Homo sapiens: one gene and its partners. The protein of the gene in region 3 purifies or fractionates together with the protein of the main gene of each other region. This does not show direct contact. Each region holds a gene or a part of one and is shown on either strand. Other genes may lie near its edges. The genes, in order: SMPDL3B, XPNPEP1 and CSRP3.

What was found.
Region 1: the proteins of CSRP3 (region 3) and SMPDL3B purify together in Homo sapiens (affinity purification with mass spectrometry; one large-scale study listed by BioGRID and IntAct). This does not show direct contact.
Region 2: the proteins of CSRP3 (region 3) and XPNPEP1 purify together in Homo sapiens (affinity purification with mass spectrometry; one large-scale study listed by BioGRID and IntAct). This does not show direct contact.

What each region holds. Positions count from the first base shown.
Region 1 is NC_000001.11:27,948,471-27,952,124, forward strand, and holds part of SMPDL3B (acid sphingomyelinase-like phosphodiesterase 3b isoform 1 precursor), read left to right. Parts: intron 1-523; exon of another isoform or gene 524-594; coding exon 595-692; intron 693-3,654. UniProt on the Homo sapiens protein: Lipid-modulating phosphodiesterase. Active on the surface of macrophages and dendritic cells and strongly influences macrophage lipid composition and membrane fluidity. Acts as a negative regulator of Toll-like receptor signaling.
Region 2 is NC_000010.11:109,878,373-109,882,026, reverse strand, and holds part of XPNPEP1 (xaa-Pro aminopeptidase 1), read left to right. Parts: intron 1-1,095; coding exon 1,096-1,185; intron 1,186-1,788; coding exon 1,789-1,839; intron 1,840-3,654. UniProt on the Homo sapiens protein: Metalloaminopeptidase that catalyzes the removal of a penultimate prolyl residue from the N-termini of peptides, such as Arg-Pro-Pro. Contributes to the degradation of bradykinin.
Region 3 is NC_000011.10:19,188,476-19,192,125, forward strand, and holds part of CSRP3 (cysteine and glycine-rich protein 3), read right to left. Parts: intron 1-3,650. UniProt on the Homo sapiens protein: Positive regulator of myogenesis. Acts as a cofactor for myogenic bHLH transcription factors such as MYOD1, and probably MYOG and MYF6.

The DNA of each region.
Region 1 (3,654 bases), on a different chromosome or scaffold from region 3:
GCATTTCTAAGGTGGACCCAAGAATTTTGATTCATGGCATGAAGGGCACAGTGGTCCCAGGGCAGAATCAGTATCTGCCCTGGAAAAGATCTGAACCCTACACTTGAAGCCAGCTTCAAACTCCTTTGAACTCTTCTGGAAAGGAACAGAATTCAGAGATGGCTTCTCAACCCTGAGCTCCCTCGGGGTTTGCAGATGGGACTGGAACTCCAGAGCTTTCCTCTCTAAATAATAATATTCATTACAACCTAGCAGCTACTCTTACTGTACTATATTATGTATATAATTTTCCTCCTTGATGGATACCTAACAAACACTCTGTGAGTAAGAACTGTATTATCCCAACATTACAGATGAGTTAATAGAGGCTCAGAGAGGTTAAACAGCCAATCAAGGGACCCACAGCAGGAAAATGGCAAAGCCTAGTTCTCAGCTCTGTCCCATCTGACTCCACTCTAGCCTGGCCATTCCCCCTCAAGGGGACATCTGAGGCCCAGGTCCATAGGTTTTCCTCTCACTGCAGAGCTGTCCCTTCCTTTTCTTCTGCTGCTTCCTGAGTTGCCTGCCCCAAATTGGCTTGGTGGTGTTTTGTAGTGATGACACGCCTCATGTGCCCGATGAGAAACTGGGAGAGGCAGCTGTACTGGAAATTGTGGAACGCCTGACCAAGCTCATCAGAGAGGTCTTTCCAGGTAAGACTGTGCCATCAGTCCCTCCACAGTGTTCTCGGAACTCTAGGCACTGCCTGGCACAGTGGGACAACAGCAGCAGCGAGTGTCCTGGCTGACCTTCATCCATGGACAGCGATGGCTGTTGGCCAGGTCTTCATGGTGACCATTTCTCACCTTCCTAACAAGCCCGAAGGCAACATGCAAGCCCATGGGCCGGTGGATACACACAGAATCCTATCAAAGGAAATGCCCAGCCTTTCACTGACTTCTGCTCCTGCCTATCTCCAGACTCATGAGCCCTTCTCCAGGTGTCTAGAGTTGCACACAGGTGTCGTCCCTGGGTGAGTCTCACACACAGCCCTTGTGTCCTGCTCTGGAGTTGGCATCCATCACCCTCAAACTGTCCTGGCTGCCAGGGCCTCTGGGAAATGCTAATTTCCAGCCAAGGTGCTGTTTCTTGTTGCTTCCAAGGACTTCAGAGTCTGGCAGAGCAGGCAGGGACTGGGGGTGAGTGAGGCAGCAGCCCTACGGGACACTATAGGGTGAATAGGGTCTGCGTGCCCCATCTGATGGCCCTTGCAAATGTTTTAAAGCAGTCTGCACCGAAAACAACATCCTGGAGGCTAAATCTGGCTGCCAGGCTGCCAACTGGGCGCCTGAGAAAGCAGCCCATAGCCCCCACCCCCACCTTTTTTGGGTTCCAGTACCTCTGCCCCCTCTAAAGATCTTCATCATGGGTCCCAGGACACAGATATGGAGTAATAATAAAAATAAATAATGGCACTAGCAGCAGTTACTCTAGATCAAGTGTAAAGGGTCAGGCTGGCTCTAAGAATATTCAAGCCTTAGCTCCTTCACTGTCACCATAAGCCTTGGGGGAGGTGCTGTGACCTCAATTTTACTGATGAGGGAGGTGAGCCTTAGGGTTAAATAAACTAGTGAAGGTCACATTTACTTAAGAGGCCCAAATCCTGGTGTGAGCACTGCCCTTACTGTCTGTTCCCGCTGCTTCCTTTCCTCAACAAAGTCAATCTAGGCAAAGAGATGCCTGGATGCTTCCAGGTTATCTAACCCAGCCAACCCAAGTCAGGCTGCTTGGTTTCCTTTGTCTTCCAGCAGGGGTCAAACCAGGACATTCCCCTGACCCCAACAGCAGGCACCATTATTCCCAATGTATAGAAAAGGAACCTGTGGCTCCGAGCTAGTCGGTTCCGAGGGAGGGACTCAAACTCAGATCCAACTGGGAGTACCTCTCCTTTGCTTCACATGGGGCTTCTGGAACACAAGTCAAATAATGAGTAAGAAAATGCTTCACTGACTGTTTTGTTTTTTGAGAGAAGGTCTTGCTGTCACCCAGGCTGGAGTACAGTGGCACAATCAAGGGTCACTGCTGCCTTCATCTCCCAGGCTCAAGCAATCCTTCCATCTCACTCTCCTAAGTAGTTGGGATTACAGGCACACGCCACCACGCCCTACTAATTATTTTTATTATTTTTTTATTTTTTTAAGGCTGAGTCTTGCTCCGTCGCCCAAGCTAAAGTGCAGTGGTGCGATCTTGGCTCACTGCAACCTCCACCCCCATGGGTTCAAGTGATTCTCTTGCCTCAGCCTCCTGAGTAGCTGGACTCTAGGCATCCACCACCATAGCCAGCTAATTTTAGTATTTTTGGTAGAGATGGCATTTCACTATGTTGGCCAGGCTGGTCTCAAAGTCCTGACCTCAAGTGATCCGCACGCCTTGGCCTCCCAAAGTGCTGGGATTACAGGCGTGAGCCACTGCGCCTGGCCTGTTTTCAATTTTTGTAGAGATGGGGTTCTTGCTGTGTTGCCTAGGCTGGTCTTGAACTCCTGGGCTCAAGTAATTCTCTCTCTTAGCCTCCCAAAGTGTAGGGATTACAGGCATGAGCCACCATGCCTGGCCTATTGACTATGATTTAACACAAATGTAAATTATAAGATTTTGTAGTTTCTACTACACTTGCATGTTTATTGAATTTCCTAATATCCAAGATGCCATTGACTGAAAGATGCATCATTATGTATAACTAAGAAAAAACAGCTACCAATTATAATCTGACACAGCGCTTTCTCATGGCCACACCTCACTTTTAGAGATGGTACTATGAGAACAAATTGGAAGAGATGAAATGAAGGTATTATCTAGCTGAGAATTCTAAAAACACAAGTCAAGCAGAACACTCCCATCTTATAGATAACTAAACTGAAGTACAGAGAGGTCGAGTAAGTGGCCTAAGAAGAGGAAGGGACTGAAACTCGAGATTCAGGGTTCCACATCATGTGTTCTTCCTGCTGTGTTCAACTTTACCCACCAGAGTCAGCTGTGAACACTGGTCCTCACCTCATCAGCACAGCCAAGTGGTTGACAACACAGGCACGCAAGGCAAACAAATCCAGGGCCCTGGGCCAGGTGCAGTGATCATATGCCTGTAAACCCAGCACTTTGAGAAGCTAAGGCTGGAGGATCGCTTGAGGTCAGGAGTTTGAGACTGGCCTGGGCAACATAGCAAGACCCTGCTTCTACAAAAAATAAAAAAAAATTAGCTGTGTGTGGTGCTGTGTATCTATACTCTTAGCTACTTGGGAGGCTGAGACAGGAGGATCACTTGACCCCAGGAATTTGAGGTTACAATGAGCTATGATCGTGCCACTGCACTGCAGCCTGGGAGGCAAAGGAAGACCCTGTCATGCAGGGCCCAATTCTAGCTCTGGTATGGTTTAGCTGGGTAATCTCATAAAGACTCAGTCTGCTCCCTGTGAAAAAGGAAAATAATGGTACCTGTCCACAGGGTTGTTATGAGGATTAAATAAGGTAATTCATTCACTCATTTAGTCAATCAACAAATAGTTATTGAGCATCCACTATGGGTGAGACACCATTCCAGGAGTAGAAGACATGGCAATGAACAAGACACCAGGTCGCACCCTCATGGAGCTTATGTTTGCAAGGAGCTGGGCACACAGA
Region 2 (3,654 bases), on a different chromosome or scaffold from region 3:
AAGCTAGGGTAAAAGCTGTGCAGGTGGTATAAGAATGCTTGAAGCTTGGGAAATGCTTCTCTACCCCCTCCTTCTGCCGCACCACATTTTATAGCTAAGGACACTTGAGGCTCAGAGAGGATTGGGGAGTTGGGGATTTGGGGATTTGTCAAATTCAAGTGATAGTGATAGCCTTGCCCTTTACTGAGCCCTTGCTGGGCAGTGCTAAGCAGCTGACACTTGTTGCCTCATTTTCATTAGGGTCTGGGATGGGACTGGAATCCAGGCCTCTTTAGAGGTAGGCTTTTCTACTGTCCTCCCCTGGGCCTCTGGCTGCCAAGTGGCCTTTGGCAAGCCCAGTGATGTCCTTTCTTCTCCACTGAGCAGTGGGGCATCCTGGGAAGAATCCAGGCCTGGCTCTCTAGATCTGGCTTGCCATTGTACCCCTGCCATCATCACACACAGTGTGACTCCTCCTCTCTCTCTCTCCTCTCTCTCTGGAGAGAAAGAGAAAAGGAGATAAGATCACAAAAGCAATTTTAGAAGCTTTGTGCAAGTGCCAGGTGTGCTGAGGCCCCTCTGCTGGATTCTAACTTGTTCTCAAATTGGAAAGGGTCTTCTCCAGCCCTTCAAGATCAGATTATTATCAGTAGCTGAGATAGGACCACTGGGCGGGAAGGGAGGGAGCAGGAGACCTCACTCATCAGGTCATGTGCATGGCTAGACAGGGAGAAAAAGCCCCCTTTGTACAGCAAGAGAAGGGTGATTTCGGTCAAGCTTTCAGTGTTAGTGAACTCTAACCACAACCACAGTGGCTTGGAAAGCAATGTCTTGCTGACGGCAGGCAGCCAGCAGTCTCAAAGAGCTAAGGGAGTGAGGGATGGAAGAGAGACACCTTGTTTGATGTACTTACTCTTTTTGGTTGAGCTTAAGCTCAGGGTCATCAATCAAAAGGGACAGGTCGTTGGGGCCCCAGGGGATAGCTATATGGGTCGCCAGTGGGAGCTCTTCAAATGATTTGTCTAAAGTAAGTTTTGCTGAGCAAAAAGGTTGTTGCCTTGGTCTTGGGTGGGTGGAGCCGGTTTGATTTCCCACCCTACTGCCCTTTGCCTCTAGGACCACCGCTGCTGTATGCCTTACACCCCCATCTGCATCGCCAAAGCTGTGAAGAATTCAGCTGAGTCAGAAGGCATGAGGCGGGCTCACGTGAGTAGAGGAGCTGGTGCAGAAGATGGGATGTGAGGTGGTCAGAAGGCCCGGCTCCTTCACCTCCTCTGTGGCATTGAGCCTGGCACAAGGTTAGAATCTCTCTGAGCCTCAGCCTCCTGGCCTTCCAGGAGGAGTTATTGAGGGAATGAAATAAAATACTTGATGGATTAGATCTTTACAAAGTATAATACACAATACAAAAGGAGATATTGATGTTCACAGTGTAGATGATGGTGATGACGTGATGCTGATGAAGAAAGATTTTGGGCCCAGAGGTGGCTTTTGATAGTGGCCTGTTTTTTCCTGGCCCCTGTAGGGTTCTTAACCTTTAAGTTAACCTTTTGGAGGAGCTCCCTGTGCTCTGAGGTGGGGCCCTTCCTGATTGTACCTGAACTACTGAATAGCAGAGGAGCCTTTCCCTGATAATGGGAGTTGCTGCACACACCAGCTTCCCAGAAATGTCCACATGTAAAGCTCTGGTTGCTGATGATGTGTGGCCCTGCAGGTACAGCCTTCTCAGTATTGCATTAGGGCTAGGCTCTGAATCTGGTCACGTGATTTTCAGTGATAACTTAAAAAATGTCTCCATTGTTTGCACAGATTAAAGATGCTGTTGCTCTCTGTGAACTCTTTAACTGGCTGGAGAAAGAGGTTGGTTCTTAGTCTTTGTTTAATATGTGGATATACATTATTCAGACCTACCTATATGTGATTCTAACTCTAGCATCTCCCATGCTCTGCTGACCATGAGATCTGAGATCTTCATCAAATTTTTGGGCTCTATTTTAATAATTCTCTCTGGAAATTTGGTGTGTGTAGATTTCAAAATTCCTTAATTATGAAAATAGTAACAAGAATGAAGAAAAGTTCCATAATAGAGTGGATGCTTTTTGGGTTAGGGAATCATAACTAAGTGGAATTTCATTATAAGGAAAAATGAGTCTTATAATATTATTATAGGCAAGCTGATTGTATTAGGAGAAAAAGATCTTTGTGTACATTTTGAACTTCAGTTTAAGCCTTGAGCCTTTTTATATTAAATTGACTCTTGGCCATTAATTTCTTGCTCTAGTTGACAAGAGGGTGGTTTCTCTGTGGTGTTATTAAACAATATCATGTTCCCTTTAAGTATTGTATAAACAACTCTTTAATTGGGAAAAGAAAATATTGTCTTTATTCCCACTAGTGTAACTTTTTCCCTCATGTTTCCTTCTGGTGATTGTTCATCTATGTAAATTATTATTATTATTTTATTTTATTTTATTTTTTGAGACGGAGTCTCACTCTGTCACCCAGGCTGGAGTGCAGTGGTGTGATCTCGGCTCACTGCAACCTCTGCTGCCCAGGTTCAAGAGATTCTCCTGCCTTAGCCTCCCAAGTAGCTGGGATTATAGGCGCCTGCCACTGCGCCTGGCTAATTTTCGTAGTTGTAGTAGAGATGGGGTTTCACCATCTTGGCCAGGCTGGTCTTGAACTCCTGACCTTGTGATCCACCCACCTCGGCCTCCCAAAGTGCTGGGATTACAGGCATGAGCCACCATGCCTGGACTTTATGTAAATTATTATTATTACATTTTTATTATTTTTTTTTATTTTTGAGACAGAGCCTTGCTCCATCGCCCAGGCTGGAGTGCAGTGGAGCGATCTCGGCTCACTGCAAGCTCCGTCTCCTGGGTTCACGCCATTCTCCTGCCTCAGCCTCCCGACTAGCTGGGACTACAGGCGCCCGCCACCATGCTTGGCTAATTTTTTGTATTTTTAGTAGAGACGGGGTTTCACTGTGTTAGCCAGGATGGTCTCGATCTCCTGACCTTGTGATCCGCCCGCCTCGGCCTCCCAAAGTGCTGGGATTACAGGCGTGAGCCACCGTGCCTGGCCGTAAATTATTTTTAAAAATATAAATTATTTTTACATGTCTCTTAGTGTGCAGATAAATTTTTTTTCTTTTTTTTTTTCTTATTTTGAGATGGGGTCTCATCTGTTGCACAGGCTGGAGAGTAGTGGTGTGATCACAGCTCACTGCAGCCTCAGCCTCCCCAAGCTCAGGTGATCCTCCCACCTCAGCCTCCCGATTAGTTGGGACTACAGCCCACCTGATTTTTTCTGATTTTTTTGTAGAGATAAGGTTTTGCCATGTTGCCCAGGCTGATCTGAAACTCCTGGGCTCAAGCGATCCACCTATCTTGGCCTCCCAAAGTGCTAGGATTATAGGTGTGAGCCATCACACCTGGCTTAGATATGATTTTGTGTTTTATTTTATTCTCTTAGAATCATAGTGTGAACATTTTCCATGTACATTGAGGCCTTAAAAAAGGATCCAAATGAAAACTGCATCTAGTGGCTCTTCTGATTTACTAACCCAGTCCTCCTATTTTTAAATGTTTGGGTTGTTTTTAATTTTTTGCTGTTATCAGTAATCCTGCAATAATCTCTCCGCATTTATCTTTTTTATTTCTCTAGAATGAT
Region 3 (3,650 bases):
TCCCGATCTCACAGATGACAAAATTGGGTTCAGTGGTTCCCAGCTGGAAAAGGGTGGAAGCTAGCATTAGAACGAGATATATAGTCTCAGACCTGCTAAGGACTGCATCCCTGAGTCTTCCCAAATGACATCAGGGAAGTGTGTGTGTGTGTGTGTGTGTGTGTGTGTGTGTGTGTTTGTGGGCGCGCGCGTTGGCAGGGGGTGGGTTAAGGCAGGAGAGAAACTTACTTTTTTCTTAATCATAAAAGAATCAGGATTGAGCACTTTCTGTACTTACCACAGCCTTTGAAGGACACTGTGATATTCAAGCAGACAATTGCCATTGAGGCTAATTTTGGTCAAATTCTGGAAGCAGAGGAGGTGGGGAAGGGGGTAGACCTGCCTTATTAACTCCTTAGGCTTCTATTGGCTCAAGCCCCCTGGTTACTGTATATTACCTAATGTAAAGTATCCTCCAGTATAAGGCAATCAAGCCCTCATTTTTCCAAAGAGAGGATTTATAGAAAGATTTATTTTGCAAATTTAAAAGGAAACTTTTAAAGATATAAATAAAAATGTCAAATATCTACTTATAATTTTAATTTAGTAATATAAATCAACAATATATTGATTTGGAAAGGTTACTTTTTTCTAATCCCACATAAATTTGGGGAATAATTATCTCCAATTCTGTCTTTGCATCTTCAACATCGGCATCTCCCTCACCACCAGAATCATTTCTGGGGGCAGCTGGCCCAGCTTTTCTGAGCAGCTCACTTTCACTTCTATCTGTACGTTTAAAGAGGCAGCCCTGTTTTATACCTGAGTAGGAGGTTGTCACCTAGAAATTGCATCTCAACAAGAAGGACCTATTAGCATAGCATTAGGGCAGATTTTTTAAAAGATATAGAATTTCCACCATGTAATGACTTGCTACATTGCTTTGCAACAATGATTCTTAAAGGTTGTTTATAGTGATGCTCAGTGCTTATAATAGGGAGATAATATCCCCAGGAATAATAATATGTGTGCATTAAATGTATTTGCCTTTTAAAAAAACATTTCCATCAAATGATCCCTATAAGCAATCCAGCATTGAATGAGGTTATTTCAGGCTAATATGCCTTCTTCAAATGATATTATCTTTTTTAAAAGATAAAGTAATTGAATATGGGAGTGGAGGAAGAAGATAAGGTTGTAGATGAGGTAGGATTAGCCAGGGGCTGATGAGTGTGGGGCAAGGGAGTTTATTCTGGGACTTTATTTGACTATTCTGTCAACATTGTATGTGTTAAAAAATATCTGTACCAAAAAAAAGTTTAAATCAGTAAATAAAATAATTGGAAGAATGTCTTACAGCAGGAGAGACTTTATAAGGCTTTAAACACAAGGCATATCTTTTTTATGAAGATGAATTTGGGGGGAGAATGCCTTATATTGAGACATAGAAGGTGTGTACACTTGTCTCTACCCTTCTTGTTACTGTCAGTTACCAACCTCCACAACAACTGCTTGCATATTTGCTGATGGTCTAGACTCTGAGTTCCTTGAGGGCAAGCCTGTTTTGTCTTAATATTCCGAGAATTTAGCACAAGGCCTGGGCCAGAATTAGTCCTCTGTAAACATTTATTGAGTACATGAATGAATGAATGAATGAATGTGTCAATGTAAATCAGTGAGTTGTTCACAATTATACAATAGTAAGTTGCAGAGCCACGGCTTACCTCAGCTCTTTTGACTCCTAGTCCAGTGCTCATTCCCATCACTCCAAGACTGCCTATACCCTAAGGTGCCCTGGCCAATTCTGTAGCCACTCCCTGGCTTCTGATGAGCTTTTGTGAACAGACAAAGGAGAACTGTGCTGTCCAGTGCTGTGGCCACAGCCACATGCTGTGCTGTAAGCACAAAATGCACATCAGATTTCAAACACTCAGTACAAACGCAAAAATCATGTAAAATATCCCACTGATCATTTGTATATTGAAGTATACATTGAAATTATAATGTTTTGGATATATTGAGTTAAATAAAATGTTTTAAGATTAATTTCATCTGTTTATTTGTACCATTTTTAAACTATGGTTACTAGAACATTTAAATTTACATATGTTGCTGCATTATATTTATTTCTTTTGGACAGCAAACTTACTTTCTAGATTTCATGATTAGTCTAGAGATTTAATTGTGAAGATTTATCTAGAAGTCAGGGGAACACTGGCCTGGGCACAATGTAAGGTAGACCCTGCGTCTCTGAACGCCTTTTCCAGCAGCTACAGAGTTGCCTGCGGACAGACAGGTGATTATCTTGTGGTAATAATATAGAAAAGTGTGCTCCTCTCTGGGGCTCTTCTACCCATCGTTCCTGAAATGTATGCTGCTCAAATCCTCATCCCATCAAAGGGTTCTCAGGAAATATCAAAGGGTTAAAAGGGATGTACCAAAAAATGCTCAAATCTCTTCTACTATAACTCCTTTGAACAGGGCATCTTCCTCCTACCTGGGAAAGACAAGACACCCTCTACTAAGGAAAGCTTCCCTACAATTTCCTGTTCCCACGCAGTTACCAAAGTTGATCAAAGGAGAATACAGGCCTAGAAGGCTGGATTTCCATATCAAGACCCCCCAGTTTTCTCCTTGTAACAACCTGTGCAGTAGGTATAATCATCTTTGTTTTATAAGTGGAGAAATTGAGGTTCACCATGGTGAAATGACCTGCCCAAAATCTCAGTGAGTACATGGCAGAGCCCAGACTCAAACCCGAATCCCTTTTACTCTAATTCTAGAATTCTTTCTAATATTCCTAATCCTGTTTTTTAAAGAATGCTAGCTCTCTTTGGACAAAAGCCCCAACAGATGGAGTCCAGCCCTTGGAGTTCTTTTCAATTGCATGGATGCCTTGCAGCTACCGGGCTGAAGCATGGGGGTGCTGGCATGGCTGTGGGGACTAGTCGGGGAGGGGGCTCGCCAAATATCCAGCAGAGCTAGCCCTTAAGCCAGACCTCCTGGACAGAAGCAGAGAAGATAAGTGGCCATTTTAAAACCAAGGCCAATTTTCTCCCAAACAGGACTAGCTGCCAGGAAACAGTATAGAATGCAGTCATGTCAAAGAGCACTGGACATGGAGTCTAAAGGTAGAGGTTCATGTATAAGACTCTATCGCAGATGCACATGACCCGGGCTTAGATGTGAGAAATGACTTATCGAAAGTCACGTGAGTCAGGCAGGACCAGACTCACAAGGTCTCAAGGTTCTCAAGGTTCTCAAGGTTCAAGCCACAAGGTCTCAAGGTTCTCCCTATTTTTGACATGTGTGAGTCAGTGTCTGGCGGGTAATGGTCAGGATTTCTTTCATGCAGTTACTGGTGCCCAGGCCCTGAAATGCTTCCCTCTCTGACTCTTACATACAGAGTTGGCATGTGTTGCCCCCCTGCCTGACATAGGTTCTCTCTCAGACAAGACCAGTCACAGCTGGCTTCAGTCACAGCTGACCAGAAGGGGCAACATAGACAGCCAAATCCATCCTGGCTTCAGATAAGTGCTGGCTTCCTTTCTCTGCCAAGTCACATGTTGTCAATGTCGCCATGGGGTCAAAGTTTTCCCTACAGAGAGCAGTGACAGGCTAGCTTGTTCTGACGTTGAGCTACAGGAAAATGAATGGCCTCTGAGCTGGGC